2 separate regions of the Homo sapiens genome follow, and region 1 is linked to region 2. Evidence: fine-mapped expression QTL. Tissue or cell type: gastroesophageal junction. Region 2 holds a variant in brackets; the other region holds the start of a gene. All regions are shown on one strand. Distances are from middle to middle.

Region 1 (16,160 bases), 29 kb before region 2:
AGCCTCCCGAGTAGCTTGGACTACAGGCACCCACCACCACGCCTGGCTTATTTTTGTATTTTTAGTAGAGACAGGGCTTTACCATGTTGGTCAGACCGGTCTCGAACTCCTGACCTCAGGTCATCCACCCACCTTGGCCTTCCAAAGTCGGGTTTTATCTAGAGCTGGAGGATACTCTGATCCCAGGACTCACACCCCACCCACTCGATGTAGACAGGGCCAGAGGGGACACAAATGCAGCCCAGAGCCTCAGCGCCCTCTGGAGCACAAGGGTCTCCCAGCCGGGCCCCAGACTCGATGTCCAGAGCACACTGTGGTGGCTGCCGGAGGCCTTCTGGGGGCAGGGGAGGAAGGACGGCTGTTTCTGGGGATGGAGGCAGTGGCGCAAGATCCCAGTCCTGTGGAGACCTGGGTGGGTGGGAGGCGCTCTGGCCAGCAGGGGTCAGCAGAGGCCCATTGTTCTCCTGCTCGTCCTGCACCCAGAGACGACTGCGAGGCCTCAATCCAGAGCCCCAGGTGCAGTATTTTGAAATTTAAAAAGAAAAAAAAAATCGTCTCCTGGTAATACATACGCATGATAACAAAAAAGTGGCCCAGAAAAGCTAATGCTGAAAACATACAGCAATGACCCTCCCACCCAAGCCTTTTTAAAGGCTTTTAAAAACAAAAACAAAACACTTAATATCTCTTTGTTGTGGGAGGCAGGCTGATTGCTTGACCCCAGGAGTTCAAGACCAGCCCGAGCAACATGATGAGACCCCCCCCTCAATCTCTCAAAAAGAAAGAAGAAAAGGTAGTTTCATGTTAATTTCAACATGCATTGGGAAATATCTGTATATATTTATATAACAAGTTCTTCAATTGCTTAGAATAAAGCTATTTCATTTTTAAATTATAAAATGGAGTTGAAAAATAGTAAATAATGTACTATACCCCTGGGGAAACCAAATATGGCAAAACTAATGAAGGTGGTAAAGAAATTGATTGGAAAATAGTGGTCTTGATTTTTTTTTTTTTTTTTTTTAAGAGATGGAGTCTCACTCTGTTGCCCAGGCTGGAGTGCAGTGGCGTGATCTTGGCTCACTGCAACTTCCGCCTCCCGGCTTCTAGCAATTCTCCTGCCTCAGCCTCCTGAGTAGCTGGGATTACAGGTGCACAGCACCACGCCAGCTAATTTTTTGTATTTTAGTAGAGATGGGGTTTCACTGTGTTGCCCAGGCTGGTCTCGAACTCCTGAGCTCAGGCAGTCAACCTGCCTCAGCTTCCCAAAGTGCTAGGCATGAGCCACCACACCCAGCCAATTCTTGAAGTTGAAAACCAGTGAGGGCAGCAATCACTTCGATGACAGTAGAGGCTGGTGCAGAGGCATTTGGCCTTACACGCATAGCAGGCACAAACTTCCTCAATCGACAAACTCAGGTGGGCAAAACTGCAGTTTTATTTTCTGTAACTCAATGGAAAAAAAATTTTTTTTACAGCTCTCCACCCTTCCTCCTAATGGCAGGACATTTAATCTGTTGGTTTTGAGAGACAGGACCAGCTGGATTTCCTAGGCCGACTGAGAATCCCTAAGCCTAGCTGGGAAGATGGCCACATCCACCTTTAAACACGGGGCTTGCAACTTAGCTCATACCTGACCAATCAGGTAATAAAGAGAGCTCATTAAAATGCTAATTAGGCAAAAACAGGAGGTAAAGAAATAGCCAATCATCTATTGCCTGAGAGCACAGCAGGAGGAACGACAATCGGGATATAAACCCAGGCATTCCAGCTGGCAACTGGCTACCCACTTTGGGTCTCCTCCCTTTGTATGGGAGCTCTGTTTTCACTCTACTAAATCTTGCAACTGGTGGGGCACGGTGGCTTACGCCTGTAATCCCAGCACTTTGGGAGCCTGAGGCGGGCAGATCACGAGGTCAGGAGATCGAGACCATCCTGGCTGACATGGTGAAACCCAGTCACTAATAAAAATACAAAAAAATTAGCTGGGCATGGTGGCGGGCTCCTGTAGTCCCAGCTACTCGGGAGGCTGAGTTGGAGAATGGTGTGAACCTGAGGAGGTGGAGCTTGCAGTGAGCCTAGGTCACACCACTGCACTCCAGCCTGGGCGACAGAGCAAGACTCCATCTCAAAAAAAAAAAAAAAAAATCTTGCAATTCTCTTCTGGTCCATGTTTGTTACCGCTCGAGCTGAGCTTTTGCTCGCCGTCCACCACTGCTGTTTGCCGCTGTCGCAGACCCGCTGCTGACTGCCATCCGTCTGGATCCGGCAGGGTGTCCACTGTGCTCCTGATCCAATGAGGCACCCATTGCCGCTCCCGATCCGGCTAAAGGCTTGCCATTGTTCCTGCACAGCTAGGTGCCCAGGTTTGTCCTAATCCAGCTGAACGCTAGTCACTGGGTTCCACGGTTCTCTTCCGTGATCCACGGCTTCTAATAGAGCGATAACACTCACCACATGGCCCAAGATTCCATTCCTTGGAATCCATGAGGCCAAGAACCCCAGGTCAGAGAACACAAGGCTTGCCACCATCTTGGAAGCGGCCCGCCACCATCTTGGGAGCTCTGGGAGCAAGGACCCCCCGACCCAATAAGAGTTTCGCAAAAACTCGGTCATTTTCAAGTTTAAACTTAGTCAAGTCCTAGCGTCCCATTTCTAGGAATTTATCCTAGAGATAGACTAGCTCAAGTACGAACCACGCAAGGATAAGATTATTCATCACAGCTTCATCTGTAACAGCAAAAGACTGAAAACAACCTAAATGTTCATCCTACAGAGCTGTTGAAATGCATCTCGGGCCAGCCCTTCCATGGAATGCTGTACCTACCCCACAAAAAGAGAACCAGGAAGTTCTCCAGGCAAAAATATGAAAAGTTCTCCAGCAAATGTTGTCAAGTATAAGAAGACACGAAACTGTGTATGCCATATGTTAGCATTTGTATATATCCAAGATATTTCTAGAATGATGCAAAAAAGAAATTTTTAACAGTGGTGGCTCTGGAGAAAAGAAATGAGTGAAGGATGGTGGGGAGAGGGACAGAAAAGTGGGAGGAAAATTTAATTTTTACTATGAAGCCCTTTGTACTTTTTAAAACATTGTATTGAGGTGAAATTCACATAACATTAAATTCACCATTTTAAAGTGTAGGATTCATGGCTGGGCATGGTGGCTCACACCTATAATCCCAGTACCTTGGGAGGCTGAGACAGGAGGATCCTTTGAGGCTAGGAGTTCAAGACTAGCCTGGGAAACATAGCAAGACCTTGTCTCTCCAAAAAAAATTTAAAAATTAGCCAGGCATGGTGATACATGCCTGTAGCCCCAGCCACTCAGGAGGCTGAGGTGGGAGGATCACTGGAGCCTGGGAGTTTGAGGCTGCAGCGAGCTACGGTCGCACCACTGCGTTCCAGCCTAAGCAACAGAATGAGATCCTGTCTCAAAAAAAAAAAGTGTACAATTCAGTGGCATTTAGTACATTCACGGTGCTGTGCAACCATCATCTCTATCTAGATTCAAAACATGTTCATCACCCCAAAAGGAGACCCCATACCCATCAAGCAGTTAGTCCCCTTTGTACATTTTCATGTTCCACTGTATCAATCAGGGTTCTTTCTGCAAGAGATGGCCCCTTAAAAGTGGTAGGTGAAGAAAATGAAGGGACAGGTGAGGACAGTGTTAAGGGAGCCACAGGGGATGGTGAGGCAGCTGCAGGGAGGTAGACACTTCTGACCTGAAGGAGCTGGGGAGGAACTGTTCCCCCTGAGGCCAGAGCTGGCTGGAGGGGCTGCTGCTGCCAAAAGTGTGGCCAGCCGGGAGGGAAGGAGAGGAATAAAAACTCCAACCTTTCTTTCTCTCTACCTTCTGCTGTCCTGCCACCACCTGGCATTGGCCTGACAACCAGAGGCCAGAGGCCGGGAGCCCAAGGGAGGCTCACACAGGGCAGCTCTGGGGACAGAACCAGGGGAGAGAGTAGAGAGGGAATCTGGACATAACTGGCATATTGCTTGTATTTATTTTTCAAAATGAAATGAACCATTTAAAAAGTTCAGCCAAATCAGACTCCACTACAGCCTGACCTTTTCAGCACCATGTCCCAGCCTTGAGCTTCTGTTGATATATTGCCTTTGTCCTGGTTCCCAGGTGGGGTCAGCCCTCCTCGCAGTGACTGCAGAATGACCTTGTTCCTATCAGCCTCTGTTGCCAGCCCACCAACTTTCTCCTCCAGCAGCCACCTGACCCTCAGTTCACTGCCTGCCCTGGCGAGAGGGTGTGCCGGGCCTTTTTGCTTTTGGTTCCTTGAAGCCATCTTTTCTCTGTGGCCCGCGCTGAGCACTCTGGGGCCCTGTCGCTTTCTTGGGCCACCTCAGGTCCCTGATATGCTCAGACCTGGAAGATCTGCCCAAGGGAGGTCTTCTTAAGGCCCTCCCCAGGGCCTTGCTTCTGTTTGGACTCTCTTCCCCTTCCTGGTTCCCTGGATCTATAAGAATCTGAGGGATGGGGAAGGAAGGGGAGTTGGGAATGAACAACTTACACATTTTTCCGAACCTTCCCAGGCTTTCATATTGACCAAGGCTTTTGAACTTCAGAGCTGAGCATTCTATGTCTTTTTCTCTGATTATGATTCTCCTCGGGTGGGGAGACACTGACTTGTCACTTACAGTGGTGACTCATTCGATCCCTCCAATCAGCCCATGGGCAAAGGACTCCCCATCACCTTCTCACGTCCAGTTGGAGCTGGTGGCCACTTTGGCCCACCTCAGGCCATCACCCTCATGATTCAAGCAGTTAAAACTGAGGCCAGGAGAGGGCCGAGATCTGCCCAAGATCGTGGTTGAGGGCGTGTCAGTGGGAGATTCAGGCCTTGCAGCTAGACCCCAGACGACCTGCTCAGTGTACCTTCAACAGCATTAGGAAGGCAGCATTTGGGGGCCTGTGGCCTGTGCCCTGAGTTTGTTAGAAGGCAGCCCAGCTTTTTCTCAGTCACCTGCCTTCACCAGACAGCATCACCTGTGGCCCAACTGGACCTATTTCTTCTTGGGGACATCTCATAGGTATCCCCACTAACACCTCCTGTACACAATGTATATGGATTTTAATTGCGTCCCCCAGCAAATTCATGTCTACCCAGAGCCTCAGAATGTGATCTTGTTTGAAAATAGGGTCTCTGCAGATATAGTTAAGATGAGGTTCTTTGGCATCAGGGAAGGCCCTACTCCAATGACTGGTGTCCATGTAAGAAGAGAAAATAGGAACATAGACTGCTATGGTGGGAAAATTCCCAACAAATTTCATATGTTGGAAACTTAACCTCAAAATTCATATGTTGATTGGAAGTTGAGCCCTTGGGAGGTAATTAGGGTTAGGCAAGGTCATCAGGGCGGGGTCCCATGTTGAAACTGGAAACTTTATAAGAGAAGAAAGACCTGAGCTGGCACCACGCTCTTGCCCTCTCACCATGTGATGCCCTCCACGTTATGATGTAGCAAGAAAGCCCTCACCAGATGCTGGCACCTTAATATTGGACTTCCAGCCTCTAGAGCTTTAAGAAATCAATTTCTTTGTGTGTGTGTGTGTGTGTGTGTGTGTGTGTGTGTGTTTTGGTGTTTTTTTAAATTTGTTTGTTTGTTTTATTTTTGAGGCAGGGTCTCACTCTGGTTGCCCAGGCTGGAGTGCAGTGGTGCAATCATGGCTCACTACAGTCTCAACCTCCCAGGCTTGAGTGATCATCCCACCTCAGCCTCCCAAGTGGCTGGGACCACAGGTGCACACCACGGCGTGGCACCCAGCTAATTCTGTTTTATTTTTTGAAGAGACAAAGTCTTACTATGTTGCCCAGGATGGTCTTGAACTCCTACGCTCAAGCAATCCTCCCACCTTGGCTTCCCAAAGTGCTGGGATTAAAGGCATGAGCCTCCGCACCCGACCTATTTTCGTTATGAATTACCCAGTCTGAGGTATTCAGTGATAGCAACAGAAAATGTACTAAGGCATAGACACAGAGGAAAGACAGCCACGTGAGGACAGAGGCAGAGGCTGGAGAGATGCACATGCAAGCCAAGGAACACCCAGGATGGCCAGTGACCCCCAGCAGCTGGGAGAGAAGCAAAGAAAGAGTCTGCCCACAGCCCCCAGAGGGAGTGTGGCCCTGCGCACATCTTCATTTCCAACTTCTGGCCTCCAGAGCCGTGGGAGAATACATTTCTGTTGTTTGAAGCTATCCAGTTTGTGGAACTTTGTTACAGCAGCCCTGGGGAATGAATACATGGTCTTAGAGGGGAGACTTTTGGTATTCAGAAAAAGGCCTTGTCCTGTGTGAATTTCCCATCTCTTTATGGCTGCCTGAAACCCCCCCGCCCCCCTTAACATGCTTCTTTCCTTTAGAAGAAGGGACAGATCCAGGCTTCTATTCATGTGTCCCTGGAAAGTCACATTCCTCGGTTGCCTCTATCATGTCTTCAGTGCAACTGCTTCTATAGACCATGTGGCGTGGTCTCAGTGTTGGAAATGTCTCCTTCCTTCCCCCGGGGTGGGCTCCCTCCTTGGGTCTCCAGCCTCCATGCAGGACCTGGGGGAGGGGGACTGAGTGGGTGAGATCCCTCCCAGGGCAGCATTCGGCAGACCGCAAGTCAAGGTTGCAGAGTGTATGCAGCCAGGGGTAGCAGCCACTTCAGGATCTGGGTCTGGATTTGTGCTGAGAACCACTATGACCTTTTAAAGCCAGTGAGGAGGTTTTCTGGGGGCCCAGAAGCCCTGAGCCCATTGGCCAGACCTCCTGGGAGAAGCGGAGCGGATTTGCATCAAAAAGAACACTGGCTTCATTGAAATTCTCCTCATCTTGAGAGAAACAAAACCACAAAGAAAAGGAAAGTTTTAATTCTGAGAAACTTCACTGAGGAGCAATTTTTTTTGAGCTTCTAAAAATAGAGAGGAAATGAGCCTCTTTGGGTCACTCTAGTTGCCGCCTCCCCTGCCCCATGCCCACCCCCACTGCTCACTCAAGGCTAGCCTCTCTCAGTGGGTGACTGAGCTGTCTTCAGTGGAAGCCCGAGGCAGATGCCACGCAATTCTGGAGCTGGATACGGCTGCCCACACGGGGACCCCAGCATGCTGGACAGCAGAGAGACCCCACAGGAGAGCCGGCAGGACATGATTGTGAGGACCACCCAAGAAAAATTGAAAACCAGGTAAGTCATTGGTTGGGTTTCTGCACACTGCACCTGTGGGCCGAGTTCTAGACTTTGCTCTGCTGTGTGAACTTGGGCAAGCTGCTTCTCTCTCTGAGCCTCAGTTTCTTCACCTGGGAAATGAAGGGAAGGATCTGGGCGATCCGTAAGATGGAAGAACTGGTCATTTGGAGGGCTACTTAGCATGGCTAAGAAAGGCTCATCAAAGAATGAGGCACATCCCAGGGGTATGAGCTGGGGCTGCAGTTGGAGACCAGTTGGATCTCAGTTGGATGGAGGAGGAATTTTTCAGTCAAGAATGTTTCCCTGTCTCCTCAAGGGGGACTTTTGCCTGCGGGGGTCAAAGACAGATAAGTTTTGGTGGGGACCCAGAGGTTCCCGCTCCAGTTTGCTGCGTGACCTTGGCAAGTGCCTTTGCCCTCCGTGGGCTGTAGCTTCCCTGTCTGAATATGAGTGCAGTGGCTGAGGTTTCCCTAAAGCCCTTCCACTGTATATATTCCAGTAATCTGTGATTTAGAGGAAGTGGATTCAACGTATCAGGCATTCACCAATGCCCACCCTGGCCCAGGCCCTGTCCATCCAGGGAGTAGGGGATCCTGAGAAGATGAGACTCAGTCCCAGCCCTGGGATGCCCTGGCCAGAAGGCAGGAAGAAGGCAGGCGCACGCGCACACGCACACACACGGAACTCCAGGACCCCAACATCTGTGATTTGTGTCCAGGAGGGGCGCAGGCGAAGGGGCAGAGAGAAGGAGGTTTCTAACTGGGGCGCCTGAGATGGACCTTGACGGTCAGAGTGGAGCCAAGAGCAGTGGGCAGAGAGAACGACCTAACAAAGCAAGACAGGAAGTTTGGGGATGGGAGAGGTCTGGGTGGCGGAAGCATAGAACTGGGGAGGACAGGGGCTAAATACCAGGGTCCAAGTCCTCTGTAGTAATGGGGAGGAATTGCCAGTGTCTGAGCTACCAAGACTACAGCCCCTGTCCTGATGGAAGGTTATGGGGAAGGAAGATAGAGGGAAATGGGAACAGATGTTAATGCGCCTCAGAGATGCAGAGGCCCCTCCGAGGGCTGGCATCTGGGCCCTGCCCTGGGTCTCCAGAGAACCCTGCTAATCCAAAGTGGACTCCTGTTCTTCCAGAAGCAGGGACTCTTCCCTGCAAAGCCTCCAAGAGCATGAGGGCAAGCCCCTCCCTGGGCATAGGTCAGGTGCACAGAGGGTCAAGGGCCCCTGGAAGAAAGCTGGACTGACTTCCTCACCCAAGGGCAGATTCAGGATCTCCTCTGGGCCCCGGTGTCCTGGCACCTCCCCTCCTCCCTGGGGTCTGTGGGCTCAGAGAGCAGGAAGGCCAGGCGAGATGCTCAGAGGAGCACATCGAAATATGTCCAGAGGCCATGCATGATGGCTCATGCCTGTAATCCCAGCACTTTGGGAGGCTGAGTCGGGTGGATCACCCAAGGTCAGGAGTTCTGAGACCAGCCTGCCCAATGTGATGAAACTCTGTCTCTACTAAAAATACAAACAGCCAGGTGGTGGTACGTGCCTGTAATCCCAGCTACTCAGGAGGCTGAGGCAGGAGAATTGCTTGAACCCGGGAGGTGGAAATTGCAGTGAGTCAAGATCGTGCCACTGCACTCCAGCCTGGGCCACGAGAGCAAAAGTCCTTCTCAAAAAAAAAAAAAAGAAGAAAAAGAAATAAATGTGCCCAGAGCAGGGGTAGACAGGCATGAGGACAGCCAGGGCCAGGGGAGTCTTTGAAAACAAAATCAAGGTCTGCAGGATCTCAGGGTCTTCTGCTCCCTGTGAGTGAGGGGCCAAGTGGGGCTCAGGGCCACAGGAGCCTGTGTCTCAGGCCTGTGGTGAAAAGGGGTGGCAGAGGGTCCTGTGTGCCCTGCAAAGCTCACAGAGGACTGGGCTTGTTTTGCAGACATCACTGAAGGAAAGTAGGCAAACTTGAGGCAGAACCCTAGGCTTGTGCAGAGAAGGACTCCCTCCTGAAAGGGTAAATGGGTCTTGGGACCCCGTAGGGAAAGAGAAAGGCTAAAAACCCAAGAGTTGGAGTGTCAGTTCTACTACTTTCTTGCTGAGTGACTTTGGATACATTGTTTAACCTTTCTGAGCCTCAATAGCATCCTCTGTACAAATAAATATACAACGCCTGAACTTCATTGACATTGCAGAAAAATTGGGTGGATTCCATCAGCTAATGTGTATGAAAATGTTTTCAAAGCATAAGAGTTACCCATCACAGGCATAGTAACTCTCATAGCAACACTCTTAGCAGCAGGCTGGAGGTCACATGCCTTGGGTTCCAGTCCAGCTCTGCTCCTAACCCATTCTGTGACCCTTGGCAAGATACCTTCTCTGAGCCTCAGTTTCCCCATCTGTCAAACAGGGAAGCTAAACCTGCTCTGACATTCTTGCAGAGCAGCTGTGAGAAAAGAACTTAATTCTTGTAAAACATTGTTCTAAAGTCAGAGAGAGCCAGGTGCAGTGGCTCATGCCTGTAATTCTAGCACTTTAGGAGGCCAAGGAAGGAAGATTGCTTGAGTGCAGGAGTTCAAGACCAGTCTGGGCAACAAAGCAAGACCTTGTCTCTGCTAAAAATTTAAAAATTGGCCAGGCATGATAGTGTGCACCTGTAGTCCCACCTACTCAGGAGGCTGAGGTGGGAGGATCGCTTGAGCCCAGGAGTGTGAGGCTGCAATGAGCTATTAACCACTGTACTCTAGCCTGGACTACAGGGCAAGACTCTGTCTCAAAAAAATAATAAAAATAAAAAATAGGCTAGGCACAGTGGCTCACACCTGTAATCCTGGCACTTTGGTAGGACAAAATGGGTGGATTGTTTAAGCCCAGGAGTTCGAGACCAGCCTGGGTAACATGTTGAAACCCTGTCTGTACAAAAAATACAAAAATTTGCTTAAAAAAATACAAAAAAGCTGAGCACAGTGGCTCACACCTGTAATCCCCGTACTTTGGGAGGCCGAGGTGGGCAGATCACCTGAGGTCAGGAGTTCGAGACCAGCCTGACCCACATGGAGAAACCCCGTCTCTACTAAAAAAATACAAAAAAAAAAAAATTAGCCAGGCGTGGTGGCGCATGCCTATAATCCCAGCTACTTGAGAGGCTGAGGCAGGAGAACTGCTTGAATCTGGGAGGCAGAGGTTGCCGTGAGCTGAGATCGTGCCATTGCACTCCAGCCTGGGCAACAAGAATAAAACTCCGTCTCAAAAAAAGAAAAAAAAATTAGCCAGATGTGGTGGCACATACCTGTGGTCCCAGCTACTCAGAAGGCTGACGTGGGAAAATCAATTGAGCCCGGGAGGTCAAGCCATGATGGCACCACTGCACTCCACCTGGGTGACACAGCAAGACCCTGTCTCAAAAACTAGATAAATAAGGCAGAGAGATCATTGTTGTGACCATTGTGATGCCCCTTTCTGCTTCTCTGCTCCTCTGGGCCAACTCCAGGAGGGAAGGTGTATTAGTCTGTTTTCCCGCTGCTGATAAAGACATACCTGAGACGGGGAAGTTTACAAAAGAAAGAAGTTTATTGGACTTACAGTTCCATGTGGCTGAGGTGGCCTTACAATCATGGCAGAAGACGAAAGGCACATCTCACATGGCAGCAGACAAGACGAGAGCTTGAGCAGAAAAACTCCCCCTTATAATAATCCTCAGATCTTGTGCGACTTACTGTAACGAGAACAGCACGGGAAGGACCTGCCCCCATGATGCAATTACCTCCCACCTGGTCTGTCTCACAACACATGGGAATTCCAGATGAGATTTGGGTGGGGACACAGCCAGACCATATCAGAAGGGCTCTATCTCAGTCCTGCCCGTTTGCCCTGACCTTGTGGCCATGGTGGCTGCTCCTGGGGAAAGGCGGGTCTGCATTCCTCCATAGCCTGAGAGGGGCTTATCTTCCCCCTGCTTCCCAGTGTTGCAGAGGGGAAGACAGGAGGTGGAAGAAAGGGGAGGCTGAGAGCCCGAGGAGGGCTTGCACCCTGGCCTGACCCACGAGAGTTCCCTTCCCTGCCACACAAGTTGCAGGGCTGGATCCCAGTGACTGGGGCAGGTGTCCGGAGGAAACAGCCAGGCCAGGGCCAGGAGAGGCAAAACCCGTGGGGTCTGAGCTAACACTGGCCCTGCTCTGGCAGCTTGTGTTCTGTGCCCTTGAGGCTGTGGCTGTAGACCATGCCCTCCATCAGGGACACCCCTTGAGCCTGCCCAGGGCCTGGGTCCTGACCCTGGGAAGCCCTCTGTCCAGTGGAGACACCGGTCTCCCTGAGCCTAAGGAAGCCCATTGTGGAGGAAGGGCTTGGAAGGAACCTCAGAAGAGGACAGTCCATCCTGTGTTTGAAAGGCTGTGGATGCCCGGATGGCAAGCAGGGCGCTGTGCTGACCAAAGGCATGATTGTGAAGATGTTACGGGTGGCCATGAGACTGGTCAGGTTGGGGACCGGCTAACTCCTGGGCCTAGAGAGGCTGACGTGGCCAGACTAAGGGCAGCCAGGCTCAAAGAAGGAGGCAGACAGGAACCCTGGGAGGGGTGCAAGCAGCAGAAGCCTGGGGAGAGCCTGGTTTGGGGTTTGTGAATCTAGCAGCAGTGAGTACAGGCTGGACTAGGGGTGAGGTGGAGGCAGGAGGCCAGGACTTGGGAGCTCCAAGGGTCCCATCTGGCCCAGGGAGGGCTGTCAGGCTCTGAAGTGACCACACTCACTCTGGGCTCCTAGCTGACTCTCCCGGCGCTGCCTACCCAAAGACTGGGTGCAGAGAGGAGCCCCCTAAGAGCCAGGGATGTGGAACGGTCGCAGGAGGCTGCTACAAGCCCCATGAGCAAGGCTGTTCCCACTGACAGAGCTTTCCCAGGATGACAGAGAGTGCGCTCTGCCTCTCTGGGGTGTGCTAGCCTACGAGGGGCAATCGTAAGGCGAATGTCACTGAAAGAACACAAGTGTCCTTAAACATGGACTATCTGGGCTTTCTAGTGCTGAAATTCTTCCCACTCCCACTGCCCACTTCCCATTATGTAAAAAACACAGTTGTTTCATGTTTTTGTTTCTTTACTGTTTTTCTTTGTTTTTGTTAAGAATGCATTCATTTATTCAAAATTGTTTATTGTAGAATAATCAGGCATTGCGCTAAGCACTGAAGAATATAACAAAACAAAAACAAGTCTCTACCTTAAGGAGTTTGCATGCTTGCAGGGGAGACAGACATTAACAAATAATTATACAATTAAACTGTAATTGTGACAGGTGCCATGAATGAATAAAAAAAAAAAAAGGGAATATAATCAATGCCACTGAATTATACACTTAAAAACATTTCAAATGGAAAATTTTATGTTATGTGTATTTTACCACAATACAAACATTTTTTTAAAATGTCGGTAATTAAAAAAAATAGAATATAACGAAGATCTGACTTGGTCTTGAGGGTTGGTGCAGGCTCTCCTGGTAAAGCAACATTTAAACTGAGACATGAAACAGGAGTAGGAGTTGGCTAGGGGAAGAACTTTCTAGGAAATGGGCACAGCATGTGCAAAGGCCCCGAGGTGGGATGGAGCTTGTAGTGTTCAAGAGACTAAAAGCCAGTGGGAACAGGGCAGATTTGGGACTATCATGTAAAAGCCACAGGAAATCAAGGTGCTGGTGTCAAGAGCCCAAGATCAAAGGGGTCAGGCACATCCATGGAAAGCGTGAGTCTCTAGGGCAAACCAACCCTGGTCCTAGACTTCTGAGTACGGATCTGGATAACTTCCGAATGCAAGTCCGCCCAAGCCAGCGGTAGTCCTCTCAGGAGCTGCAGAGATTTTAGCCAGGGGCAGCAGAGCTCAAACTGACCTGAAGTCAGGATCTGGGCCCAAAGCTAACCCACTGTCTCCAGGCAAGCCCCTGAATGGCAGAGTACAAGGCAAGCAGGTTTTTTAGGTCACTAAGTCCAACCCACTGTATTACAACATTCACATATTATCAATCTACTCTGACCTGATTACCTCTAGGGAAGGGGAACTCACTACTTACCTCTTCAGCTCCGCAAAAGCACAGTTTCATCTAGGGCCAGTGGTGGTAGAAAAAAACCCTATCTCACACTGGGTCCTGTGAGAGACCCCTGGATCCCAGCTCTGGCCTCCTACCCAGACAATTCTGGCTCCTTGGAAAGGAGCCTGTGAGGAACACTTTAGAACAGGGCTGGGAAGGTGCTTTGGAAACTGTAAAGGTTGTGACCATGTGAAGGACATCTAGGGCCTAGCTCAGACTCTGGCCCCGAGCAGCTGTAAAATAAGAATTTAGATGTCAGCTGGGTGTGGAGGTGCATGCATCTATAATCCCAGCTACTCAGGAGGCTAAGGCAAGAGATTAGTCAATTAATCAATCTCCACCCTCACTTTCCCATAAGTAACCACTGTTCTGAACAGCCAATGTTCCAGGTGTTCTTGAGGATGGCATGCTTGGGATCACACAGAATGTTACTTGTCTGGCTCCTTGCACTCATCGAAATGTTTGTGAGATTGATCAGTATTGCCAAGTGTCTCAGTAGTTCATTCGTCTGTACGTTTCAGTAGAATTCCATTGTGTGGCTATACTACAATTTTTTTTATCCATTAATCTATTGATGGGCATTTGAGTTGTTTCCAGTTTGAGGATTTTATGAGTAAAGCTGCTATGAAATTCTTGTATAAGGTGTTTTTGTGGACATATGTTCTCATTTTCTTGGGTAAATCCCTAGGAATAGAATTACTGGATCAGAAGATAGGTGTGTGCTTAAAGAAGCTGCCAGAAGTTCCCACATCTTTGTCAACAGTGGGTATTGTTACTCTTTTTAGTTTCATTCTGGTGGGTGAATAGTGATATCTTGCTGTGATTTTAATTTAAATTTCCCTGATGATCAATGATATTGAGCATATTTTCATGTGCTTATTGGTTATTTCCATGTCTTCTTTTGTAAATTATCTTTTCAAATCTTTAGCTCATTTTGTAATTGGGTTCTTAATCCTTTTATTATTGATTTGTAGGCATTCTTTATATATTCTGGTTATATTTTGTCAGATATATGTATTGGAAATATTTTTTCCCAGTTTGTGGCTTATCTTCATTTTATTAATTGTGTATCTTTTTTTTTTTTTTTTTTTTTTTTTTGAGACAGGGTCTCGCTCTGTCACCCAGGCTGGAGTGCAATGGCATGATATCGGCTCACTGCAGCCTCTGCCTCCCAGGTTCAAGCAATTCTCGTGGCTCAGCCTTCAAGTAGCTGGGACTACAGGCGTGTGGCACCATGCCCAGCTAAGTTTTGTATTTTTAGTAGAGACCAGGTTTCACCATGTTGCCCAGTCTGGTCTTGAACTCCTGATCTCAAGTGATCTGCCCTCCTCGGCCTCCCAGAGTGCTGGGATTACAGGTGTGAGCCACCACCCCTGGCCAATGGTGTGTCTTTTGATGAGCAAATTTTTTTTTTATTTAATGAAGCCCAATTTACCTAGTTTTTTTCTTCTATGGTTAGTGCTATTGTGCCCTCTCTAAGAAATCTTTGCTATTTCAAGGTCATATATATATATTATATATATATATATATTTTTCTATGTGTTCTACTATTTCCTACATTAAATTGCTTGGCTCCTTTATCAAAAATTTACCACATTTGTGTCAGCCTATTTCTTGATTTTCTTCCATTGAGCAATTATTTCTCTTTCTTTATATAATATCATGCTGTCTTCATTCTATAGCTTTTTAAAAGTTTTTTTTTTTTTTGTAGAGATGGAGTCTTGCTACATTGCCCAGGCTGGCCTTGAACTCCTGGCCTGAAGCGATCTTCCCACCTTGGCCTTCCAAAGTGCTGGGATGAACAGGCTGGAGCCACTACACCTGGCCCACTACTACAGCCTTATACTAAATCTTGAAATCAGGTAGTGTTGGTCCTTTAACTTCATGAATTATTTCCCCCTACAAGATTGTTTTGTCTATGCTAGGTGCAGTATGCAGCCTCTAAGATATTGCTCAGTGATTCTTGCCCTCTGATATTCTTGCCTTTTGGATTCTTGTGTAATCATCTACCCTAGAACGTGGGCTGGATCTAGTGATTCATTTCTAACATAGAATATGGCAAAAGTGGTGGGATTTCTTTTTTTTATTTCTATATAAGTTTTATTATGACCATAAAAATAACCCTGTAGTCAATAACAATTTAATTGTACATTTTGAAATAACTAAAAGTGTATAATTACAAAAAGTGATGGGATTTCACTTCAGAGATTAGACGACAAAAATACCGTGTCTTTCATTTTGATTGCTCTCTTTCATTTTCTTTCTTGCTCACACTAAGACAGACCCATGTGGTAAGGACCTGAGGGACACCTCTAGCTAACATTCAGGGAGGAATTGACAACAACCTACAAAGAACTGAATCCTGCCAACAATCACATGAGTCAGCTTTTGGAAGCTCATTCTCCTCCACTGAGCCTTCATATGAAGACTGCAGCCCTGGTTGACAGTTTGACAGTAACCCTATGAGACACTTTGAGCCAGAGCTAGCCCATGCCTAGATTCCTAACCCATAGAAATTGTGAGATAGTGTTTGTTTTTTTTAAGCCACTACATTTTGGGATATTTGTTACATAATAATAGATTCCTAATATACTAGATCCTTTGTACTTCTATGTAAAATGTAGAATCATCTTGTCAGTTGATTAAAAAAAGACTGTTTGAAATTTGACTGGGAGTAAATTGACTCTATATTTCAAATTGGGTGAATCATCTGATCCATGAACATGGTATGCATTTCCATTAATTGAGGTCTTTGATTTGTCTCAACCATGTTTTATACCTTTCAGTGTAGGTATCTTGCACATTTTTTCTTAAACATTTCTAGAAATTTTATGTTTTTGTTGCTATGAAAACTGTAATTTATTTTATTTTTTAATTTATTTTTATTTATTTATTTATTTATTTATTTATTTATTGAGACA
Region 2 (16,160 bases):
AAAGTAGTTGGCACGCAACCTGGACCCCCAGACTTGGGTTTAGGGTTTTTTTCATTCTGCTGGTCACCCTCTCAATCTTGCCAAGTTATCCTTTTCTTCTTGAGCCCCCAAAGATCCATGAGAGCTCATGCGTAATAATGATGAGAGCTGACTACGTACTAAGCACTTCTTATATATCACCTTCTCCTTGCAGTAGCCACAGGATACGGGCAGAAAACCGAGGGCCAGAGAGGAACCGTGACTCGGCCACATAGCTAGTAAAGTGAGTTGTGCCCAAGCAGGCAGACAGACTGGTGAACTTTGATGCTATCCTGTTTCAAGAAAGCGTTCATTGAGCACCTACTTCATACACAACAGTGGCCTGGCTGCTGAAGGCTGAGTGAGAAGAAAGGGTAACAGAAATAAATGGGAAACGGATCCTCATCCGTGAAGCGTTCACATGGGAAATGAGGGTCCTCCTCAACTTATGTGTCACACACATAGTGACAACTTGAGAAGGTTTAGGTCCAACCAACATGTACTGAGCTCCAACAGTAAGTACTCATGGCCAGAGGACAGAGCTGAATCAGAAGCGGCCCCAGCTGTCAAGCCATGTGTGACCATCAAAGCCCAAACCTGAGTATCCAAGGGCCACAGGGGTGAGAGGGTGTTGGGGAAATCTAGGAGGGCTTCCTGCAGGAGGAGTTGAAGGAGGCTTGGGAGGCTCTGTGTGCAAATGGTTCCCATCAGCTCCTCTGGCAAGGTAGAAGGAGTAAGGAGACACCAATCCACCAAGAGATGGTTAAGAGAAAGGCGCAGTGCAGACGCTCCCAGGCTCCTCTGCCCCCCACACATCTTACATCATATTTGCTCAAACACGCCCTTTGTTTTCTTGTTCCCATGCTGCTGGGTAGCTGCTGATAAAGTGTTTTTGTTTTCTGTGAAAGGAGAGCAAGGCGATGAGCTTAAAGTGTGCTTATGTGAGCTGAGGTCAGAGAATGAATCCTTGTTCTCGTCCTCAAAGACGAGTGAAAAGGGCCAACCTTGTAAGCTCTTCTTCCTCCTGGGAATTCAAAATGCAGACAGAAGCCAGTCAGCCTCCTCAGGCCGTTCTTCCACCATTATTGTCATTAATCATGTTAGGTGACTTCCGCCAACCTCTGGAGTATTGCCTTCCAGAAGGAGCATAATTTTCCAGAATGACAGGAATAATATGTTAATCGCCTTCGGCGTGCTCATGATGATCACAATGACAGTAATATCAACTCACCTGTAGGATCATTTACAGCCACCTGTCCTTCCTGGAATAGCAGCAAGAATCAGGAGAAGGGCCCAAAATGCTTTTGAGGAGTTAAGACAGAGTAGGGGCAGCTTCCCAAACCTTAGCTTCTTTTCTTCAAAGAAAACATGATAGGTTCCATTGTGGAACTTGTCCCCCAATGTAACCTAAGTTCTAACGAGCTTGGCTGTTTTGTTTTCTATTCTGCTACAAAAAGAAATGGCAATGTAGGAGTGAGATGAATTGCTAGAAGCCAGCACACTGAAAGTAGCAAGAAGTGACTGCTAGTCACAGAGGAGAGGATTAAAAACTAAAAAATGGCCGAGCATGGTGACTTGCGCCTATAATCCCAGTACTTTAGGAGGCCAAGGCTAGAGGATCGCTTGAGCCCAGGAGTTGGAGACCAGGCCTGGCAACATAGCAAGACCCTGTCTCTACAAAAAATACAAAAATTAGCCAGGTTTTGTGGTGCTGTCCTGTAGTCCCAGCTACTCAGGAAGCTGAGATGAGAGGATTGCTTGAGCCTAGGAGTTTGAGGTTGCAGTGAGTGGTGATTGTGCCCCTGCACTCCAGCCTGGGTAACAGAGCAAGGCCCTGTCTGCAAAATATAAATAAATACATACATACAAAATAAAAACTGAAAGACGACCATTACGAACAACAACGAGTGTGAGACAGCACTCACAATGAGGAGAGGCAGATGGCCCGAGCAGTTTCACTTGTTTCTGTGTGACAAGTCAGGTCAGGAAAGCCTGTTACTGGTTATAACTCTGTGTGAGCAGGAAGTTACTGGAGGTTTAGCACATTCTATTTCGGATGACATCTCTTCAAAGGGACCACCTCTCAAAGCCCCTAGTGAGGAAAAGATCAGGCTTAATTCATTTGGAGAATTAGGTTTTGACATTCTTTTAATCATGCGCCCCAAATTCTGTAAGCATAGGGCATAGAGAGTTGAATCAGTGCCTTGAGCCAGCCACAGGGATAAGGAAGGTGTTCTTGTTAAACTGATGCTGGCAGAGGGCCACGGTCCACCCTCTCATTGACCATGGTTGCTGGACAAGATCAGTGTCTGAGCAACAAGAAATTTGACACTGCACTGGGTGCTGCCCCTCCAGGAAAAGGCACCCACCCGCAGCAAGAAGGTGCTGCCAACAGCCTCATCGTCCCTATAAACAGAAGGTTCTAATCACGATAAGTACGCTTGACCCTTGGCTTCCTTTGGTGGCTGTCTTTTCATTTAGTCTTTGTGTAGCTATTTTAAAACCAGAACCAGTTTACACTAATTTTCTGTGGGGAGAGAAGTGCTGCCCATACCTTTTGATTAGGAGGATTTAAAAACAGGTTTGTTTGTGAGGAAGCAGTTCAGATGGTGGGACATTACAGCCAAGGACAGCCTCCTGCCTGGCTAATGTGGAGGTGGCCGCCCAGCTGGTGATCTCAGAGGCTGATTAGAGCTGCTAACTCTAACCTGGGGTGCTGTCCACCGTCCTCTGAGAACACAGGCTGAGATGGGGCAGGGACATCAACCAAGTTCACAGTCTTCCCCAGATGATCACAGTGCAGGCCTCTGAGCCTAGCAGTGTACGTGTCCCTCGTTTGCCGTCGCTGCCTGAACCCAGAGCTCAGGGGCCATTTGGTAACATTGCGGCCCAAAGTGGAGGCAGCTTCTACCTGGCTATCCCAGAGAGCTGTAACCAAGGATCCAAAGTCAGTAGGACGAGTTCTGCAGCATTCACACGCCTCTGTCTGCCCGGCACAGGAGGCCTCGCCCCGGAAGCACACGTTGCCATCTCTTCAGTTTTTCCACAACCTCCCTGGAGTGGGTCGCCATAGCAATGGAAGGGCTGCTCCAGGCCTGTGGCCCAGGCCTTGCTCACAAATTTCGCAAGAACGGCGCCACCTTGGTTCCCCAGTCATCCCCCTTCTCCCCGTCCCCCTCCCTTCATAACCTTCTGATATCTTTCGCTTTAAAACCTATCTCAGGTTCTTAAGCAGATGGCTGCCAGGTGGGCCTAGGTGTGTTCACAAACTTAGTTTTGTTCGGAACCTGCAGTGCCGACAAGGAGTGAGGCTGAATGTGAGAAGCAGGTAATTGGCCCGGCTTCCTGGGAACTGGGCAGGGATGGGGCTAGCCCCACCCTAACTGACAGACAGGGCTCCCTGGAGCCAGGGTCCTACCCTCAGGGACACCATGACCAGCTGCACAGGTTGCATGCTGCACAACTCCAGTGGATTCTGTTTACGTAGTTGTTGACTGTGAAATGTGTCTCTGGAGTTCTATAATCCTGTTGCAGTCCTAAAGTGTGTACTGAAATCCAGCTGCTCAGCCATCTAGGAGGTTGAGGTCTGGCCAGGTGAACTCTGAGGAAAAATGGTGCTGAAGGGCAGTCAGGCTGAAAGGATAATGAAAGCCCAGAAACCCATGAAACTTGGGTTGGCCAGAAGGGGAGACCCTTTAGCCAGGGTCACCGAGCCTGGGAGGCGAGGGGGATCTGGGTCAGGCCCTGGGCCTCAGGTCTCCCTGGACCCGTCTATGTCTGTCTTCTCCATGGAGTGAACAGACATGGGGTGCATGGTGCACCCACAAGCACATGGAAGAGGGGAGGCCCTCACTGGGGGGCCGGAATAGGACCCCTGAGAGCCCTATGAGTACCTGCAGCTCCACTCAGTTTCTGGGCATGGCTGGGGACTGGTGGGTACAGGGAGTGACAGATGGGGGAACCCCCGCCCCAAAAGTCTGCCCTCTCCAGGAGTGGCATTCAGAATCCTCCAGTGCGGACCTTAGCCCCGTCCTCATCCAGGTGGGGTGCTGAGACCCCGAGAGAGGCATGAACTTGCCCAGGGTCACACCACAAAGTAGAGCACAGAAGGCCTTGAATTCCCTTTCTCCTGAGCCCTTAGAGCCTGGAGGGAGGCTGGGTGGGGGCAGGGTCAGCCCCTACAACCACTGAGGTCTTGTCCCCTGACTCCCACTGGGTTCTCCTCTGTGGATGGCCCCAGCATTTGCAGGAGACAGAGGTGCCAGTGTCCCCCTGGGGGTGCTGAGATGTGTGCCAGGCCGGAGTCCCTAAGCCCAGGCCGGTCCCCCACGTTCTAATGAATGTTTTTCCTGGTCCCCTCACCACCCCAGCTCACTGACTGACAGGCAGCCACTCTCCAAAGAGTCCCTGAACCATGCTCTCGAGCTCTCAGTGCCAGAGAAGGTGAATAATGCCCAGTGGGATGCTCCAGGTAAGCCAGCTGGGGGTGGTAGGGTGGGGCAGGGCGGGAAACTGTGCTGTGCTGGGTGTGCTGGAGGGGTGGGTGGTGTGGGGGACCACCACACAGAACTGCGGGAAGGAGCAGCTGGGGATCTTGCTGGTTCCACGCTCCCAGGGACCCCACCAAGCCCCTTCCTTCATGGCTGCCATCAGGGCCAGGCGTGATGGAAAGGAATGAGGGATGGGGAGATTTCTTCTTCAAGAAAGCTGGGAAGAAGAGAGGCCAGAGATAGAGAGACAGGTAGGACATCATCTGGGCCCAGGCCTTGGGAACTTGGGGCTCCAGCAAAGGGTTGCTGAGGGACAGGAGAAAGCCCAGATAAGCAATGCCTTGGGATTTTTGGCCTGGTTAACTGGGGCAAGGGGCAGGCAGACGGGTGCAGGCTAGAAAGGTTTGTTTTGGAGGCTTGAAACATTACATGTTATCTTCTTGATCTCCACCATCAAATAATTGTGCCTTAAGGAAGGCAGAGTTATTTACTCTGACTCTGAAGAGTCATCAAAATGATAATAATAATAATAATACATCTTTTGTGCACTTTTATTGGCTGCACAACAACATTGTAGCAACAACAGAAATTTAAAAACAAAAAGAAAACAATAGATACCCAGCACAGAGGGTCACTGCTGCCAGACCAGCTGCCGCTCTCCCAGGCCGAGTGTCTTGGGTGGCTTTGGCAGGGATCTGGCCTGAGCTGTGGGGGTGGGTGTTTCCTCTCATGCCCCCTGCCCTCACCTCAGAGATAAAGGAGAAGGGACTGGGCCAAGAAGAGGACCAACTGGTTTCTGAGAATGGTTTGAAAGACACCGGAGAGAGGCCAGGAACAGGGACAGCTTGGTCCCGGGAGCCTCCCACGTTCATCCTCCCAGGATTCCAAGGCATCTTGCTGACTTGCTGAGCCACCTAGGGCAGGTCCCACCAACTGGCTTAGGCTCAGACACCCCAGACTTTATAATCCCTTCTCTGGGGTGCTCAAAGAGCAGGTGTTGGCACCAGGGGCCTGGGCCACAGCAAAACCGTGGAGCTCAGCAAGTCCTGAGTATGAGTGATGGCACAGGCATTCCTGCAATTCAAGGGGCAGGAAGGGAGCCATTTGTGGGGGAGGCTCCGTGTCCCTTGGAGCCCCAGAAAAGCATCTGGCATCCCGAGGGAGAAACACATAATCCCCAGCCCTGCGGGCCTCAATGGCTTCATCTGAATGGCTGTCGTCTGGCAGCCGTGCAGCAGTAGACACGCAGCATGGGCAGGTTTTAAACAAGCAGGGTAGGGAGTCCCAGAGAGGGTCCCTTCAGACAGGGCTGGAGTAGAGGCATCTGAGCAGCCAGGGGCCAGATGAGGGACAGGGAGAAGGCCCTGAGTTTAATGGCGAGGCAGGGCCTGGGTGGGCAACTGTAAGGGAGGTGACAAGGCCATCACGATCTAGTGTATCAGGACTTTGGGAAACTGGCAGGGACGGCCAAGGTGGGCGTGCCCCAGGATCCTCCACCCTGTGCACTGGGCTGTGAAGGAGACTGAGACGGACAATCTTCTTTCCTGCCCTCAAAGAACCCCCAGTCTGAGGGCAGACAGGTCCTCTGTAAAGGGCAGGGACAGGCTGAGGAAGGAGGGCTCCCTCTGGGAGCTGTGGGGGCAAGGTGGGCCTCTTGCATTAGAAGGACCTGTGGCTGTCCTCAGAACCTCAAGCTCCCTCTAGGCCTAGAGGTCTGGACTGAGTGCTCTGCCCTTGGGAGTTCAGCTTCCAGGGCTGGTGACAAAGAGAAAGGGGAGGTTTGGGAGGGGCTAAGGAGGCACCATGGTTGTCAGCAGGCGCCCAGAGCGGAGGCCACCGAGGGACCCCAGGTGCTTCCCAGGGCAGTGCTAAGCAGGCATCATGGGCTCCCACAGACCTGGCTCGGGGGCCATGCTCTGCCCAGCACCCTGTCCTGCAGCCCTGGTGTCCTTGGGGGTGGAGGGGGAGCCTCTGCGCTACAGCGTGGGTGAGTTCCAGATTCTCATGGATGGCGTGTCCACCGCGTGCCAGGCCTGGAGCGGAGCTTGGACTCTTTCTCATTGACTCCCTAGAAGCTTGGGAGCCCTGGGCTCTAGTCTCTGTACAAGAAGGGGGATTGGGGCTGGCACAGATTGGGAGGGGTCTTGAAGCTGCCCTTTCACAAAGCATTTTTGATAAGATTGGGAAAAGCCAACTATCCCTATCAAAGACTGCTGGGGAGGAGGGATTCGTGGGATTAGGAGAGCTGAAAGTCCTCCTTCCTCACACAGTTGTGCCCTGAATAAGAAGAATCAAGCCCTGTGCTAAGGGACTTTCTTGTATTCTTTCCTTTTATCTTCATATCAGTAGCAGGGAAAACAAATCTATCACTCCTATTTGGTAGAGGAAATGGAGCTCAGAGAGGGTTAGTGATTTTCTCAGAGTCACACAGCTGGTAAGAGGTGGAACTCTTAACTGGCCACACTGCCTCTTTGGGACCTAGATAGCATCATGCAGTCTGGTCTTCCAGGTCTGGCCCCCACAAGTCTGGCCAGCCCCTGCCTCCCTTTCATCTAACTGCAGACACTGGCAGCCCCTCTGGGGAGCTCTTTGAGTCTTGTACACAGGAATCAGGGTTCACTCTGGAGCCCTCGGAGGCTCCCAGATCTCTTTGAGGTCCCAAAAAGTTTGAGGTCCTGAGCTCTGGTCCCCAGGCTGAGCTCTGAGCTCTCCAGATGGCTGTACTCCCAGG[A/G]AGCAGCTGTGCGAAGTCAGGCCACCGAGACACTGGAATCTGACCTTCACACAAAGGCAGCCTTGTACTGGGCCCTGGAGACACATTACTTTTTACTTTCTAGGCCTTTCTAGATAGAGCTTGAAGCCCAGCAGGAGAAGGGCAGCATCGAGACCACAGAGAGGGGAGGGCACCCGGGGTGAGCAGCTGCTGGGGATGAAACTGCTGGAGGTGCTGGCCAGGGCTGGCTCCCCACCCGCTTTCTCCCTAGGAAACTCCCACACCCACTAAGGAGCTTTTGCAATTGGGAAGCTAGGTGCTCAGCCCCACTTGTCTCCAGTCCAGTGAAGCCCTTTGTGGGTCAAGGGATTTGCTGGGCCTCCCTCGGTTCGTCACTCCCACCCTTCCCAAATGTTGCAAGGGGTGGTGTTTCAGGCTGGAGCTATGCGCTAGGGAGCCAGAAAGAGGCCTGATACAATGCTTGTCCTCAAGAAGCTCACAGTTTGAGGCCGGGTAGCAGGAGGAGGCCGTTGGGACAGTGGAAGGCAAGAGGACCTGCCTGTCCCCGCAGCCTCCGATGGGGGCCGGCAGGAAAGGCTTTCCAAGGGTCAGAGGAAATGAGTGCCAGTGATTCCTTCTCCATGATATGGAAACAGGTAATCCCGGCCCTGCCAGCCAAAATGAGTGGAACCTCTGGGGGTCCTCAGAGAAACATTTTCCGCAGGGGTCAAGGCACCCACCCAGCCCCTGCCTGGACAGCCTCAGACACTGCCTGGGTGTCCCCTCCTAGGACCCTGCCATGTGGGGCAGGTCTGGGGCAGGCCAGCCCAGGGCTTCTGGCTGGGATGCCCGGGTTCTTGCTCAGACCCGGCTTCTCTCCAGTGGATGGAGACCCAGCCTGAGGTCTCCTGCACATCTCCTGAGCATGCTCACCTTTACAGGGGCAGGTAAAGCCCATCTCAGGTCCCTTACCCCGGTGGTCCAGGCCTGGACAAGTGGAATCCTAGAGGCAATTTTAAAAAGCTAAAACAATGACTGTGGAGAAGCGTATAGAGAACATCTTGTCTACCCCAATTGTAATTCAGATGGGGAAACTGAGGCCCAGGGTCATTCTGCTGTGGTGGCCAGAACTCAGAGCTCTTCAGTCCCCATTGAGAAGGCCGGGAGTGGCAGCTGCAGGGGCCCTCTCCCCTCAGACACAGAGGAACTACTGAACAGCTGACAGACCCTTCTGTGCTAGGTCTTGTCCTTATCTCTCTTCATGTCCTGGGGCCAATGTGGCCTCTTCCTCTTCTGTATCCCTGAGAGTGCCTTGCATTGGGCTGGCCCTCAGCACAGGGTCCCGTGTTGGAGAGAGGGGCCCTCCTGGGGCTGGTTCCTGCCTGGCCTTTGGAGGAGGGCCTCTGGGGTCAGTGCCCTGCAGGACCGTTCTCGGAGAGAGATCTGTCCTAGGCCTGAGACCCACCTCTTCCTCAACACCAGTTATTCCTCCATCTGCACAAGAAGCTACTTTCCTGCAGCCTTTCCCACAGACCACGGAAAACAGCCCCAGCCTCCCGCTCTCTGCTCTTGTGTTGTTTTCCTTCCCGGCTAATTGAGTGACTGCCTTTGCTCTTTAGACGCCTTTATTCCAGAACCCCAGAGAACACAGCTCCCTGCCTGCCCAGTGGCCCCCAGCATAAAGGGTGGATTGATAAGATACAAGCCAGGGTCAGGCCAAGACAAGTGGCAGAGGGAGGAAGCGGCAGAGGGAGAGGGAGGCGGCAGAGAGTGCCAACCTTGCCTGGGAAAGCCTACCCCCCAGCTCTCAGCTGACTTGGCACTTGGTGGGCGGGCAGTGTGCTGGTGGTGCTGCATTGGCAGCAGGCAGCGAGCTTTCTGGGTTCTCCACTGCGCTGTAGATCTAGTCGTTGGTTGCCTTTTGGAGTCAGCTCCTGTTGGGATCTGGGTGCCTTGCTGGGCAACAGAGACCTTGATTGTGTCCTGGCCCCGTTCTTGGCTGTTACTACAGCAGTGATCTTAGTTTGGGCATGGGACAGAGCTGATGGTTGCACTGATCTTAGTTTGGGCATGGGACAGAGCTGATGGTTGTGCCCTGTTGGTGGAGCACAAAGGGGAGATGAGGACTACTTTAAGGACTGGCAGTCATCCTGATTTCCTAAGTCTCTCGATACAGATCTTTTCAGTGTGGTCTATGCATTTCTGTATGCCCTTTTTTGCTCCCCTTTTCACTTGATGTTATACTGTGAACATTTCCATATGTCATTAAATATTCTTTTTGTACTTTATTTTAATGGCTGCATGGGAATCCATGATACGGCTCTACCATAATGAACTGAATAAGAGACCAGTCCCCTGTTGGACATTCGGGTTGTTTCCAATGGCTTTGCTAATAGACACGTTGCTGTATGGATATCCATCTCCACATTCTCGCTGTACATGTCTCTGATTGCTTCCCTTGAGTAACTTCCAGAAAGTATGATTGCTAAGTGCAAGGATGTTTCTGTTTCAAGCCTTTGGATATATATTGCCAGTTGCCCCCAACAAAGCTGTACCAGTTCATGTTCTGCACTGCACTGCACCTTCCAGACAGTGGATATTGTCTGTTTGCCTGATTGTATTTTTGCTGCTTCAAGTTCTTTCCTTTTAGGAGAAACCTAGGGAGAGAGGGAGGTTAGGAGATGAGTTCAGATGGCTTCAGGAGATGTGGGTTATTGTGAGGAAAGGCAGGGAAGAAAAGAAGCTTAGAAAGAGGCTAGGAGGAGGCCGGGAGTGGTGGCTCACGCCTGTAATCCTACCACTTTGGGAGGCTGAGGTGGGCAGATCATGAGGTCAGGAGATCGAGACCAGCCTGGCCAACATAGTGATACCCCGTCTCTACTAAAATACAAAAAATTAGCTGGGCGTGGTGTCACGCACCTGTAGTCCCAGCTACTCGGGAGGCTGAGGCGGGGGAATCGCTTGAACCCAGGAGGCAGGGGTTGCAGTGAGCCGAGATAGTGCCACAGCACTCCAGCCTGGTGACAGAGCAAGACTCTGTCTCAAATAGTAATAATAATAATAATAATAGGAAAGAACATAAAAGTAAAAAGAAAAAGCCTAGCAGGGAATGGGAAGAATGGACCTTCCTGGCTCCCTGCTCAGGTGACAACCAGCATTGCTGCAATTCAGTTTCTCCCTGCCCTACTGCCGCCACCTGCTTCTGTGCACTCCACTCACTATGCTGTGACTTCCACCACCCCATTGTCTCAGCTCAGCCATCCTGATCTCTGCAAGTGGCTTCCAAACTCTGCAGGAGAGACTCTAATTTTCTGTCACCACCTACAGGGAGCACTCCCACTGAGCAGTGCTCCTGCACAGCAACTTCATGAGCCTCTGGCCAGGGCTTGCAGCTCCGGTCTCATGCATGTTGTCGGGGTCGCAGGGCCAATGTCCAAGGCTCAACAGCTGTGGGCAACCCCTTCTGACCGTTCTGCCTTGCATTTGGCGTACCTTGCCAGTAGCTAAAACCCAGGCCCAGCCCTTCTAACTCATTGTCCAGAGACTTCTTCTTCTATAGAGAGGGAGATTGGCAGAGGACACGGTGTGAGCAGAGCCCACGGGTGGGAACACATGGACATGAGAAGAAGGGGGAGGATTGCACACCCCAGGCTAGAAGATGCATCTGTCTTCCCTTCTTTCAGCTCTGAAGGGCAGGAGTGAGCTTGGCAGCTGGCACCCAAGGCTGAGGCCACTGAGCTGTGGTGGGCCCAGGTCAGAAGGACAATGAGCAGGGCAGGCCCTACCTAAGTCTCTCAGGGGTGCAAGATGGGAAAGGAGGCTGGCGTGTCCTGCTTGGGTAGATACCCGCTCTGTGAGCCTGTCTCTGTGCTTAAGCACAATGTGTCCTGTGTCCTCATTGGCCTCCCTGGGGGGCAAGGGTGAGGTGGGGGAGAGATGAAGGCCTGAGTCCTCTAGACACACAGTCACTGGGTCTCCAGCCCTCCTGGGACTAGGGTGGGGCAGAGTTCAGCTCATTCTTCCCCAAAGAAGAGGCCCCTGGCCTCTGCTGGAGGCCGGGTTGCTGCTGGTAGCCAGGACCCAGAGAGGAGGGAATCTGACTTCCAGAGCTCCAGGGTGGTGGGAGAGGCAGCCCCGACCATGACCCCATCCTCCATTAGGCTCAGGATGGGAGTCTTTAGTGAGGAGGCAACACGTGGTCCTTGAAGAGCGGTAAAGTGTGGGCATGTGATGGAGGGAAGGGCATTGCAGGCAGAGTCGCAGCACAGGCAAAGGCACAGAGACGGGGAACCAAAGGGAACTGGGAGCAGTTCAGGTTGGCTGTAAGGAAAGGTGTATGTTGAGGCTGGGAAAGGTAAGCGAGCCCCTTGGGGAGGGCCTGCCTTAGAAGCCCTGGTATAGACGTCTCCCTGTGGTCAATGAGAGCCATCGGGGGCTTTTGAGCAGGTCAGACCTGGATTTAGCAAGGTCACTCTGGGAGTCTCAGGAGTGTGGGAAAAGGCCGGTGGCTGGAGGTCATGGCTGCCCAAGGTCACCCAGCCTGAACCTGTCACAGGACTTGGCGGGAGGCATGATAGTCCTTTCCCAGAGGAGATGGGAGATGTGGTGCCGGGGTCTTCCTTGAAGTTCACCGTGAGAGGCAGCACCCCTGTGGGAACAGCAGACTTGGGTATGGAACTGTGGGGGTTTGGATGCCAGCTCTGCCACTCAACTCTTTAGTTGGGAGGTGACAGTGGTGATGGGCAAAGAATGGCATGGCGCATGGCAGGGGCTCAGTAAGCAGTAAGCAAGAGATGATCGGGGCCTCAGCGAGGGCAGGGGCAGCCTCCTTCCCACCAGAATCTCCTCTTCCAGCTGGTCTAGGGGCTCAGACAGGTCCTGCTGGCTCAGCTGAGCTTGTGCAGAGAAAGGGCTGGGTCATGCAGCTGGCCAGGAGGCCTTGTCACCCTTCCCAAGGGTGACAAGGGGTCCTCCAGAGCTAGGGCTCTTGTCCCTGTCATGAAACAGCTGGACTAATAGGAGACTGACATTGCAGACCTATGAACCTTCCTTCCCTTCCCATGCCTCATTCCCTCCTTCCAGGAAGGATATGAGATGACCTGACACAAAAGCACAGGCTCCATGGAAGAGGAAACAGGAAAAAGACAGAACCATGTAGCTGATGGGAGAGGAGAAATTAGGTGAAGAATTCTGTCCAAAATGTCCATCAAGATTTTAAACACTCTTTTCTCTTGATCCGGTAAACCTCCTTCTAATAATCTAAACCGAGAAGGAGGGCTGGAGGCTGGATACCACTTGAGCGTCCTTCAGTGGAGAGTGGCGGAGTAAATTATGAGAGGGCCCAACCGTGGAGTACAACGCAGCCACACAGCATGCACACAATGAGGCAGGCATGTTAATATCACCAACGTTAAAGATGGATGATTTGGCTAATGGCTAGGTTTGATTTGATTCATATGATTTAAAACATATATTTGGCTGGACGCAGTGGCTCACACCTGTAATCCCAGCACTTTGGGAGGTCAAGGTAGGAGGATTGCTTGAGACCAGGAGTTCAAGACCAGCCTGGGCAACATAGCAAGACCTTGTCTCTACTAGAAAAAAAAAAAAAAAAGCTGGGAATGGTGGCATGCACCTGTGGTCCCCGTTACTTTGTGGAATGGCTAAATTGATCTAATTAGCATATGCGTTACTTTACATACTTCACACACCTGGATAAATTTTTGTAGAGATAAGATCTACTTTTTGTAGAGACAAGGTCTCTCTATTGTTCAAGCTGTCTGCAACTTTTGGCCTCAAGCAATCCTGCCTTGGCCTCCCAAAGTGCTGTGATTACAAGCGTGAGCCACTGCACTTGGCCTGTAGTTTTTTGCGTAATAGAAAAATATGGCCAGGCACAGTGGCTCATGCCTGTAATCCTAGCACTTTGGGAGGCCAAGGCTGGAGGATCGTTTGAACTCAGGAGTTCGATACCAGCCTGGGCAACATGGCTAACCCCCACGTCTCTACCAAAAATACAAAAAAAATTAGCTGGGCTTAGTGCTGTGCATCTGTGGTCTCAGCTACTCAGGAGGCTAAGACTGGAGGATCTTTTGAGCCCTGGGTGACAGAATGAGACCCTGTCTCAAAAAAAGAAGGAAGGAAGGAAGGAAAAAGAAAGAAAGAAAAGAAAAGAAAAGAAAAATATTGCGCTGTTCCATGTCTCTATAAAAAGCAGAGAAACAAAAGGTGGACTCCAAGGGCCATGTGTCTAAAGGAAAATGAGAGGGAGCTCATTTCTTCCTGGAAAAGAAGACTGCCTCTGGTTTCATTTGCAAATCCTGGGCCACTTCATTCATTTATTATGTATTACTATACATTATTTACTATGATGCTGATACACTACCCGCCTGGTCCCATGAGCATTTTGGGTTTGCTACCTGTGATTAATACATTAATAAGATGATCTCTCTCCCCTGCCACCTTATTTTTCATAAAAAGCAATTGCAACAACAAAATAAAACCTAAGTCCTTGTATGAATATTTGTAGAAAGAGGGCCTATCACTTTTTCTGTCATAGACTGCTAAATTGTTTCATATTTCTTGGAACAAGTATGCATATTTTTGTCATTAAAAAGAGATTATAGGCCAGGCACGGTGGCTCATGCCTGTAATCCCAGCACTTTGGGAGGCCGAGGCAGGCAGATCACCTGAGGTCAGGAGTTCAAGACCAGCCTGGCCAACATGGCGAAACGCCATCTCTACTAAAAAATGCAAAAATTAGCCAGGCATGGTGGCGGGCACCTGTAATCCCAGCTACTTGGGAGGCTGAGGCAGGAGAATCACTTGAACCCAGGAGGCAGAGGTTGCAGTGAGCCAAGATCGTGCCACTGCATTCCAGCCTGGGCGACAGAGTGAGACTTTGTCTCAAAAACAAAAAAAGAGATTATAGTGGCTGGGCACGGTGGCTCACGCCTGTAATCCCAGCACTTTGGGAGGCCAAGGCAGGTCAATCACTTGAGGCCAGGAGTTCGAGACCAGCCTGGCCAACACAGTGAAACCCTGTCTCCACCAAAAAATACAAAAAAAATTAGCCAGACATGGTGGTGCATGCCTGTAGTCCCAGCTACTCGGGAGGCTGAGACAGAAGAATTGCTTGAACCCAGGAGGTGGAGGTTGCAAGGAGCCCAGATCGCACCACTGCACTCCAGCCTGGGCAATATAGTGAGTGAGACTCCATGTCAAAAAAAAGGAAAGAAAAAAGAGATTATAAATGCTCAAGTTAAAACGTTTGGCTTGGAGATCCCAAGACTCACCTCTGCTCTTCTTGGCAACCTGGGTGAACAGGTGAATACAGAGGAGCGTGAGCTTCTAGATGTGCCCACGGGAGAAAGTCACCTTTTCTGTAGTCCAGGCGTAGGAGGAATCTGTGCCAGGGGAGGGAAGAGAACTAATAACCACTGAGAGGCAACTGGATGCCAGGCCCTGGGCATGCTCTGAGGGCCATTGCACAAGATTCTTGCACCACTTTGTGGGGGGTCAACATTCTATTTTTTTTTTTTTTTTTTTTTTTTAAAGACAGAGTCTTGCTCTATCGCCCAGGCTGGAGGGCAGTGGTGCGATCTCAGCTCACTGCAACCTCCACCTCCCGGGTTCAAGCAATTCTCATGCCTCAGCTTCCCAAGTAGTTGGGATTACAGATGTGCACCACCACCACCAGCAAATTTTTGTATTTTTAGTAGAGACAGGGTTTCACCATGTTGCTCAGGCTGGTCTTTAACTCCCGGCCTCAAGTGATCCGCCCACTTTGGCCTCCCAAAGTGCTAGGATTACAGGCGTAAGCCACCATGCGGGCCCTCTCTCTGTTTTTCTTAAGTAGCTTTATTGAGCTATAATTTATATGCCATGAAATTTACCCATTTTAAGTGCACAATTTGATTATTTTTAGCAAATTTACAGAGTTGCAAAACATCCCCACAATCCAATGTTGGGACATTTCCTTCACCCCAAAAAGATCTCTTGTGCCTATTCCACGGTCACTCCCCACTCCCACCTCCAGCCCGGGGCAAACACGAATCTGCTTTCTATCTTTTCTGCCTTTCCTTTTTCGCACCTGGCTTCTTTCACTGAACATGTTTTTGAGTTTCATCCATGTTGTAGCCTCTATCAATACTTTATTCCTTTTTATATTTTTTTAATTTATTATTTAATTTGATTTAATTTTTTTTCTGAGGCTGGGTCTCACTCCGTTGTCCAGGCTGGAGTGCAGTGGTGCAATCATGGCTCACTGCAGCCTTGACCTCCCATACTCAAACAATCCTCCCACCTCAGCCTCCCAAGTAGCTGGGAATACAGGCACACAACACCATGCCCTGCTAATTTTTTTTTTTTTTAGAGATAGGGTCTCACTATGTTGCCCAGGCTGGTCTTGAACTCCTGGGCTCAAGTGATACCCCGCCTCAGTCTCCTCACATGTTTACAGGTGCGAGCCACTGCACCAGGCCACTTTGTTCCTTTTCAGAGCTGAATAGCATTCTACTCTCTGACCACATTTTGTTTTTCATTTACCAGTCAGTGGACATTTGGGTTGTTTCAATTTTTTGACTCATAAACAATGCTGTGAAGAACATCTGTGTGTAAGTCTTCGTGGGGACATGTGTTTTTATTTCTCTTGGGTAGATACCTAAGAGTGGAGTTGTTGGGTCGTACTGTAGTTTTATGTTTAACTCTTTAAGAAACTGCTAACCTGTTTTCCCACATGGCTGTCCCATCTCATTCCCACCAGCACTGTATGAGGGCTTCTGTGTCCCCATGTCCTCATCAACCCCTCACATTTGCAGGTGATGAAGATGCAGCTGAGAGAATGGTTTGTTAGGTCAAACAGCACACAGAGGCAGAATTGAGGTTTTTGAACCCAGGTGTACCTGACTTTCTGGTCTGGGCATGGACTTTAGCAAAATGCA

Direction of the effects. Positions count from the first base shown, and alleles are read on the strand shown. Sizes are in standard deviations (SD) of each study's normalised expression.
For the expression in gastroesophageal junction of the gene that starts at base 6,991 in region 1, G is the high allele of the variant in region 2 and A is the other (moderate effect, 0.59 SD a copy in GTEx).

Evidence for each region.
Region 1: ACSBG1 starts here. The variant in region 2 is fine-mapped to the expression of ACSBG1 in gastroesophageal junction (GTEx, PIP above 0.99). The same link has a PIP of 0.9 or more in sigmoid colon, stomach, tibial nerve and transverse colon.

What each region holds. Positions count from the first base shown.
Region 1 is chr15:78,225,396-78,241,555 of GRCh38, reverse strand. ACSBG1 (acyl-CoA synthetase bubblegum family member 1) reads left to right here and starts at 6,991. Exons shown (of 14, transcript NM_015162.5): 1 at 6,991-7,185. The coding sequence starts at 7,055. RefSeq lists an enhancer at 15,590-15,669.
Region 2 is chr15:78,196,331-78,212,490 of GRCh38, reverse strand. ACSBG1 (acyl-CoA synthetase bubblegum family member 1) reads left to right here. Exons shown (of 14, transcript NM_015162.5): 2 at 4,389-4,489. Among named protein-coding and RNA genes, the nearest start is that of ACSBG1, 30 kb to the left of the region's middle. RefSeq lists an enhancer at 4,039-4,550. The variant A/G (reference allele first, on the strand shown) is at 7,240.